3 separate regions of the Homo sapiens genome follow, and all the other regions are linked to region 2. The links come from fine-mapping of genetic effects on gene expression. A gene starts in region 2. Each other region holds a variant in brackets. All regions are shown on one strand. Distances are from middle to middle. Region 1 has its middle 2.9 kb from the start of SNX22. Region 2 holds the start of SNX1 (sorting nexin 1). Region 3 overlaps SNX1 (sorting nexin 1).

The links. PIP is the estimated chance that this variant, and not a neighbour inherited with it, causes the effect. A credible set is the group of variants that fine-mapping cannot tell apart.
Region 1: its variant is the best candidate, but not a certain one, in a credible set for the expression of SNX1 in T cells (TOPMed, PIP 0.84).
Region 3: its variant is the best candidate, but not a certain one, in a credible set for the expression of SNX1 in iPS cells (iPSCORE, PIP 0.52).

The regions. Positions count from the first base shown.
Region 1 is chr15:64,147,397-64,150,244 of GRCh38, forward strand. No RefSeq gene overlaps it. Among named protein-coding and RNA genes, the nearest start is that of SNX22, 2.9 kb to the right of the region's middle. The variant C/T (reference allele first, on the strand shown) is at 1,584.
Region 2 is chr15:64,094,346-64,097,140 of GRCh38, forward strand. It overlaps SNX1 (sorting nexin 1), which reads left to right and starts at 1,637. Exons shown (of 15, transcript NM_003099.5): 1 at 1,637-1,827. The coding sequence starts at 1,669. RefSeq lists enhancers at 1,621-1,740, 1,881-1,960.
Region 3 is chr15:64,118,547-64,121,046 of GRCh38, forward strand. It overlaps SNX1 (sorting nexin 1), which reads left to right. Exons shown (of 15, transcript NM_003099.5): 4 at 242-308. Among named protein-coding and RNA genes, the nearest start is that of SNX1, 24 kb to the left of the region's middle. The variant A/AAAAC (reference allele first, on the strand shown) is at 1,191.

The DNA of each region.
Region 1 (2,848 bases), 53 kb after region 2:
GTCTGTGGGCCAGCCTACCCGTGCGCAGGAATGGGGCGAGTCGGGGTACATCTTCACTCCCCAGCCCTTCCTGCCCTCTGCTCCTTGGTTCTATTTCCAAGTGGCAAACTGCCGGCTCTATGCCTGCATAGAGGAGCGAGTGGAGCCAGGCCCCCGGCGGGGCTGCTGCGGTAATCAGGAGACCGGTGCTTGCTTAGTGTGATCTCCAACCAGGAGCTTCAGGACCACCAGGGAGCTTGTTGAAGATGACCGCTTCAGGCTCCACCCCAGCCCAGCAATTAGAAAATCCAGGGCCAGGGCGGCCGGGCATGGTGGCTCACGCCTGTAATCCCAGCACTTTGGGAGGCCGAGGCGGGCGGATCACGAGGTCAGGAGATCGAGACCATCCTGGCTAACACGGTGAAACCCCGCCTCTACTAAAAATACAAAAAATTAGCCGGGCGTGGTGGAGGGCACCTGTAGTCCCAGCTACTCGGGAGGCTGAGGCAGGAGAATGGCGTGAACCCGGGAGGCGGAGCTTGCAGTGAGCCGAGATCACGCCACTGCACTCCAGCCTGGGCGACAGAGCCAGACTCCGTCTCAAAAAAAAAAAGAAAATCCAGGGCCAGGGCACTCAAATGTGAGATTTCACAGCCCTACAGGTGGTGGTGATGATTGCTAAAGTCTGAGAACTACTATAATCTAGTATTGAAATACAATCCATGTGCTAGATCGTGGTGGAGAAAAGACAAAAGCTTGTATCATAAAACAGCTCATTCTAAAAACAAGTTACTTTGAGGTCTGCACACCCATCATATAGAGTCTGGAACGTGGTGTTCATATGCTGAGCTGGCCAGCACTGAAGGCGTACAGAAAGCAAACTTTCTTTGATTGTAATAACTGCTATGGTATTTACATCATGTCATGCGTTCCTCTTTATAGGAAAATACTTGGCCGGGCACTGTGGCTCACACCTATAATCCCAGCAGTTTGGGAGGCCGAGGCAGGAGGATCAGTTGAGCCCAGGAGCTGGAGACCAGCTTGGGCAGCATAGTGAGACCCTGTCTCTATGAAACAAAACAAAACAAAAATTAGCCGGGCTTAATAATGCATACCTGTAGTCTCAGCTACTTGGGAGGCTGAGCGCTTGAGTCTGGCATGTCAAGGCTGTAGTGAGCCATGATTGTGCCACTGCACTCCAGTCTCAGCAAACGAGTGAGACCCTGTCTCAATAAATTAATACATAATTGATTTTAAAAAATTAGAAAATATTCTCCATACCTGTTTTATCTCCCCAAAGACATCTTAAATGCCTCTGTGTCAAGGATCTCGTTTTTCTTCTTTTGTACCTGCACTCTTGTGCGGTGGAACACTGTGCAATTAGGAGCTGCAGGTTCCCTATCACATGTTTGACAAGTCAGTTGCATGGAATCTCTTTCCACAACTGGTGATGAAAATCCACTGATCTGAGGCTTCCTGGAACACCTGAAAATTAAGTAAATGGAAAAAGTAGACAATGATCTGCCAAGAGAGAAGAGAGGAGAAGTGTGTTTAATTCTGGAGGTAGGAAGAAGATTCTTGTTGTCCCACCATGCAGGCAGCCT[C/T]TAACCCTTCAGCAGACGCTGCTCCTTCCCCTCCCTAGTTTTTTCTCAGCATACCCCCACTGCCCATTCATTCATATAGTCTTTCAATCACAAATATTATCCATATAGTCTTTCAACCCAAATGTTTTTGAGACACACAGTAACCAAACAATAATTGCAGACTGTAATATGTGCATAGAAAAGGTCATATGATAGGGTGGTCAAGAAGGAAGCCTCAGCTGGGTGAGGTGGCTCACGCCTGTTATCCCAGCACTTTGGGAGGTCAAGGTGGGTGCATAGCTTTAGCCCAGGAGTTCGAGACCAGCCTGGCCAACATGGCCAAACTCCGTCTCTACAAAAAATACAAAAATTAGCTGGGTGTGGTGGTGCGCACCTGTAGTCCCAGTTACTCAGGAGGCTGAGGTGGGAAAATCACCTAAGCTGCAGTGAGCCCTGTGGTTGCGTCACTGCACTCCAGCCTGGGTGACTGGAGTGAGGCCCTGTCTCAAAAAAAAAAACAAAAACAAAAACAAACAAACAAAAAAAAACCTTTTTGAGTTGAGTTTTAGGCTAAGAATTGGAGGATGAGCTCAATCCTTGAAGAGTCAAGGAAGGGTGCCCCCAGGTGGAGCAAACAGCCTAATGCAAAGGCCCTGAGGCAGGAAAGAGCTTGTCAGGTTGGAAGAGCCTAGTGCATGATGGGGAGAGGAGAGGAAATGAGGTGGAAGATGGAGGCTGGGCTGGGTTGTTTACAGCTTTGTGGATTGCATAGAGAGAGTGGGTTTTATTCTAAGTGCAGTGGGAAACATTGGAAGGTTTTAAGCACATGCCTTGATAACAGTTTGTGCTGCAGGGTAGAGAATGGACGTTCTATTGGGGATGAAGGCAGGAAAAAATGGAGACTCACAGACAGAGGGGCAGACAGTCATTAGGATGAGGACCAAGAAGTCTGAGGATCCCAGGAGAGGCCTCCCTGGACAGTGGGAGTTGGGGAGGCCCTGTAGGCCAGGGAAAGCTGGGTCCCTGAATGATGGGGCCGTAGGGAGGAAATGAAAGCACAGCACTTCTCCTCACTCTGGGCTGCTTTTCTTCTAGGGGACCCCACTAGAATCTGGGAAGTTTCAGCTTCCTGATTCTGTGGTCCTTGTGTGATGCAATTTGGAAAAAGAGAATGTGGGACATGATATTGGTGAGACCTGTTTGCCCCATTTTGGGGTCGTCATCTCAGCCCTTCTCTGGGGGCAGGGCTGGGGATGGAGGTTTTTTGCTCCAGCTCAGAGGCGTCT
Region 2 (2,795 bases):
GGGAGGGCTTTTTGGCTTTCTCGTCTCCTAAGGGACTCAGTCCAGCACAGCTTCCCACCTTTGAACGAATATTTCTGCTAATGGCCTCCAAAGACAACTTAGAACATAAGTTTTCCCGTGTCTAATGTGTACAGTGGTGACATAATGGAGATCGCCATCCTTAAAAGTGTATCTTGGCCGGGCGCGATGGCTCACGCCTATAATCCCAGCACTTTGGGAGGCCGAGGCGGGCGGATCACCTGAGGTCAGGAGTTCGAGACCAGCCTGGCCAACATGGGCAAACCCCGTCTCTACTAAAAAATACAAAAATTAGCTGGGCGTGGTGGCAGGGGCCTTAATCCCAGCTACTTGGGAGGCAGAGGCAGGAGAATCGTTTGAACTCAGGAGGCAGAGGTTGCAGTGAACCAAGATCGAGCCATTGCACTCAAGCCTGGGGGAGAAGAGCGAGACTTCCCTCAAAAAAAAAAAAAAAAAAAAAAGTGTATCTTAAGCCCTCTGGTGTTCGTGGGTGTGATGGATGCCAGTAACAAAATCGATTTTATTTTATCCATCCATCCCTCCGATCAAATTTGTAGGTACTAATTTGCCATAGGTGATCCATAGGCATGGAAGATACAAAGATAAAACGCTGCCCCCGCCTTCAAACAGCTCACATGACCTGTGAGGGAGTCCATCCCTGAATTTGCAGTTACAACCAAACTAACTAAACCTCTTGTCAAAGTTGGTGACAAATGCCATTTCTATTGAGAAGATAGGATTATCTTGCAGAATTGTCCCATGCTAACATGCCCATTTATCTTTAAACTCCAGTCTTGTTTGTCTAGTTAATGTAGGCCTTAGGATCACCAGACAATGAATTGCTTAGGTCCCAAGGAAATTTTGGTCAGGGTTCAATAATTTCCCTGCCGTCTATTCCACTCCACTTACTCCACAGCAATTGAGAGGATAATCCTAACATTTTTCCAGCCAAATCTAGGACACTGAGGCCTCACTTCATCTGTGAGGCCTCCCTACTTCTCCAAGCAGAATTGATTATCTCTTTCCCTGTGCTCCCACAGGGCACCATAGCATTGAACATGTCGAACTGTCGATTAAATACCTGATTTCTGTATCTGAAACTCACAGCAAGGTGCCAGGCATACAGTAGATGCTCAGTATCTGTATTTCTTAATGAATTAACTGAATGTTGCTCAAGGAATAAGTGGTGAAGCTTTCTTCTAGTCTTGTTCAGATACCTCAATCGAAATATTTATTGACTCTCTGTGAGGGCATTGTGCTTGGCATGGGTAGATGGCATGTAGAGGTTTTCAAACATTTTAGTGACACTCCTTCATTCAGACGAACTCTTAGAAGCCTGTTGGATAAAGCTATCCAGAGCACAAAGGGCCCTAGAAACCTGAGCAGCCCCTAACTCCTACTTTTCTGCCCCTTTGGCCCCACTCGTTAATATCTCAGCATCGCGAACCAGGCCTCGGATTTGCTGCGCAGCCTCAGCTGGCCGGGTGCCGCCCCGCCCCCAGCGCCTAAGCCCCGCCCCTAGGTCTCCGCCCCTCGGATCCCACGGGGTCCCTTGCGGCCCTCCCACTCCTCGCACCGTTGGATCGCTTTGCTCACGGCGCTATCTCTCGATAAAGTTGTTGTTGCGGCTTCCGCCGCGGGTGGAAGAAGATGGCGTCGGGTGGTGGTGGCTGTAGCGCTTCGGAGAGACTGCCTCCGCCCTTCCCCGGCCTGGAGCCGGAGTCCGAGGGGGCGGCCGGGGGATCAGAACCCGAGGCTGGGGACAGCGACACCGAGGGGGAGGACATTTTCACCGGCGCCGCGGTGGTCGTGAGTTTGCACCCCTCGGGGTAGCAGGCGGGAGGGCACCCCGAAAGGGAAGAGAGGCTAAGCGAGAATCGGGGAGGTTGGGCAGAGTGGGCCCGGTGAGACCTTGCCTCGGTGTCAGCAGTCCGGGCCCCGGGGACCCTGGATGTGCTCGAAGCGGTAGAGCTTGGCTTCCCGGCCCCCAGGCGGGAAGAGTAAAGAATGAGGGTTGTGGTGCCTTCGTCGGCTAGCTCCCTAACAGCCGAGAACCGCCGACGCCGTCCTTTGACCCTGCAGTGTGGTGACACTCCACGGATCCACGGGGTTATTTTGCAGGTCGTGTCCTGCCAAGGCAGATTCAGTAGGACGGAATAAGCGAATGGGATGCAGACCTTTCCCCCGTCTTACTGCTTCTAAGATGAATAGCGTTATGTGGACTAGCCTGGGGTGGTGACCCGCCCACCAGTTCTTTCTTTAGCCCAGCATTTACCGATAATAACCAAAGGCCCTTTCTGGATCTTAGTTTACAAAAGTTATGTTGATTCTTCTGATCTCTAGGAAAATCAGGCCAGAGGCTGGTGGACAGAAGGCACTGCCAGATAAATCACTACATAGATCAGAAAGCTTTCTCCTTTTTAAAGGGATGTGTTCAAGTGCCCACGTACCTCACTGGGAGCAAATCTGAAATGTGATGAGGAAATGGTGTTTCCCGTAATGTTACCGGTAGGAGGCCCTTGAGTGTAGGTTGTCGAGGTTCTTGGCATTTTGAACAAATAATTGGACAAAACGCACAAAATAACAAAGGAATGAAACACAAACGAAGCAGCGAAAGCAGGAATTTATTAAAGCGAGAAAGCACCCCACAGGGTGTGAGTGGGCCGGAGCAAGGGGCTCAAGAGCCCACTTACAAAGTTTTCTGGATTTTAAGTGCTCCTTTTATGGTTCCTATGGGTTACCCCTTATCTGGATGAAGGATTTGGTCTGTGGCTAAA
Region 3 (2,500 bases), 24 kb after region 2:
TGGCAGTTATTCATTGTCATCAAAATAAGATTTTAAGGGGATACATGTAACAAAGACTTGTAAGCTGGCTCCTAATTTAAAATTTTGAGAGTTGGTACATTGGGATTGTTGGGAATGGACAAAAGCTGAACACTGAAGGATACATCTTGATTTTATTAGATTGGTATAAGGTTATTACAGGGTAAAATTGATAGCTTTTTTTTTCATATCAACTCTCATGATTTGTCTTTTCTTGAAAAAGCTAGAGGAAGAAGAACAGGAGGATCAATTTGATTTGACAGTCGGTATAACTGATCCTGAGAAGATAGGTAAGTGGTTCTTAGGACTCCTTGTGATGTTAGGATGTGGCTGTGGAAAGCATAGGTAGCTAATTTCAGGATGGCTACCCCCAGAGTTGAACTAGCCAATGTGAAGTACTTCATTAGTATCTTTTCTGTAAAAGTAGACCCCTTGCTATGTTTCTAAGGCCAGAGACTGCTGTTACTCAATGCGTTAGTCAGTCTTTTCTTGGCTTCAGGAAGAAAAATCAGAGTCATCAAATACTACTAGAATCCCTTTTTATTTTTATTCTTTTGGTTTTTTGTTTTTTAGAGACAAGGCCTCATTTTGTCACCCAGAATGGAGCACAGTAGCACTATCATAGCTCACTATCATCTCCAGCTCCTGGACTCAAGCAGTCCTCCCGCCTGAGCCACCCCAGCCGCCCAAGTAGCTGGGACTGCAGGCACGTGCTACCATGCCGACTAATTCTTTTTTTAAGAGATGGGGTCTTGCTATGTTGCCCAGGCTGGTCTCAAACTCCTGGCCTCAAGTGATCCTCCTGCCTTAGCCTCTTAAAGCACCGAGATTACAGGCATGAGCCACCGCACCCAGCTAGAGTCTCTTTTTAAAAACCCCAACAGGCCAGCCATGGTGGCTCACACCTGTAATCCCAGCACTTTGGGAGGCCAAGGCAGGCAGATCACTTGAGGTCAGGAGTTCAGCCAGGCCAACATGGTGAAACCCCATCTATACTAAAAATGCAAAAATTGACCAGGCATGGTGGTGTGCGCCTATAATCGCACCTACTCAGGAGGCTGAGGCCAGAGAATCGCTTGAACCCGGGAGGTGGAGGCTGCAGTGAGCTGAGATCATGCCACTGCCCTCCATCCTGGGTGACAGAGCAAGACTGTGTCTTAAAAAAAAAAAAA[A/AAAAC]ACACACACACACACACAAAAAACATTATCTTCTCCTTCAGAGTTGATAAGACCATTTTACTGTCTTTTGAGATAGTAAATCCAATGTAAGCACCCTAAAAAATACATGTTCTAAAATTGAGGGACACTGAACTTATTTTTTCCCTCAAGAAGTTTGAAACTCTCATTTATACACATACTTTTGATAACCTTATGAGGTGGGGAAGTCTATCTGTGGGATCCAAGTTGAATTGTACTCAAAATTGAAGTTAGATCTTCAAAAAGCATAACACTTAACTTTGTCTGGACTTGGATTTTTAGGATGGCTTTCCCCTCTACCAAGCTTGCAAGAGTTATCCCTGAGTGGAGAACAATAGGCCTCATCTTTCCTTGTTCTAGCTATAGTCCCTTATGGAAGAGGCTATACAGAACCTGTCTTCCTAAACAGGAGTGGTGTTTATACAGTTAAGAGGACAAATGTAATTCTCAACTCTTGGTCTGTTTGGTACTAGGGACAGGAACTTGTTAGACTTTATGCCAAAATGGTTGTCTTTTTTTTTTTTTTTTTTTTTTTGAGACGGGGTCTCACTCTGTCACCCAGGCTGGAGTGCAGTGGTATGATCACAGCTCACTGCAGCCTCGACTTCCCCAGGCTCAGGTGATCCTTCCACCTCAGCCTCCTGAGTAGCTGGGACTACAGATGTGCATCACCATGCCTGGCTAATTTTTTTATATTTTTTGTAGAGACAGGGTTTCACCATGTTGCCTAACCTGGTCTCTGGCCAAAATGGTGGTCATTAAACTATTGATTTTAGGCCAGGTGCAGTGGCTTACATGTGTAATCCCAGCAGTTTGGAAGGCCAAGGCAGGAGGATCACTTGAACCCAGGAGTTCAGGACCAGCCTGCCCAACATGGCAAGACCATGACTCTACAAAAAGTAAAAAATTAGCCCTGTCTCTACAAAAAAATAAAAAATTACAGAGGCATGGCGGTACATGCCTGTAGTCCCACGTACTTGGGAGGCCGAGGTGGGAGGATCATTTGAGCCTGGAAGGTCAAGGCTGCAGTGAGCTGAGGTAATACTACTGCACTCCACGTTGGGTAACAGAGTGAGATCCTGTCTCAAAAAGAAAAAAAATTTTTTTTTAATTTGAACTGTTGAGTTTTACTTTTCCCAGACTGTTGGACTGGTAGGATGTTTTTGAGCGTCTTACACAGTTCTGTCATCTAACAGAAAAGGAAATTGAGGACCAAAAAGGAAGTAGCTTTCCTGGTAGGGCACAGTGTGGCCCATGATAGATCCTGGACCAGGACTTTGGATTATATGTCT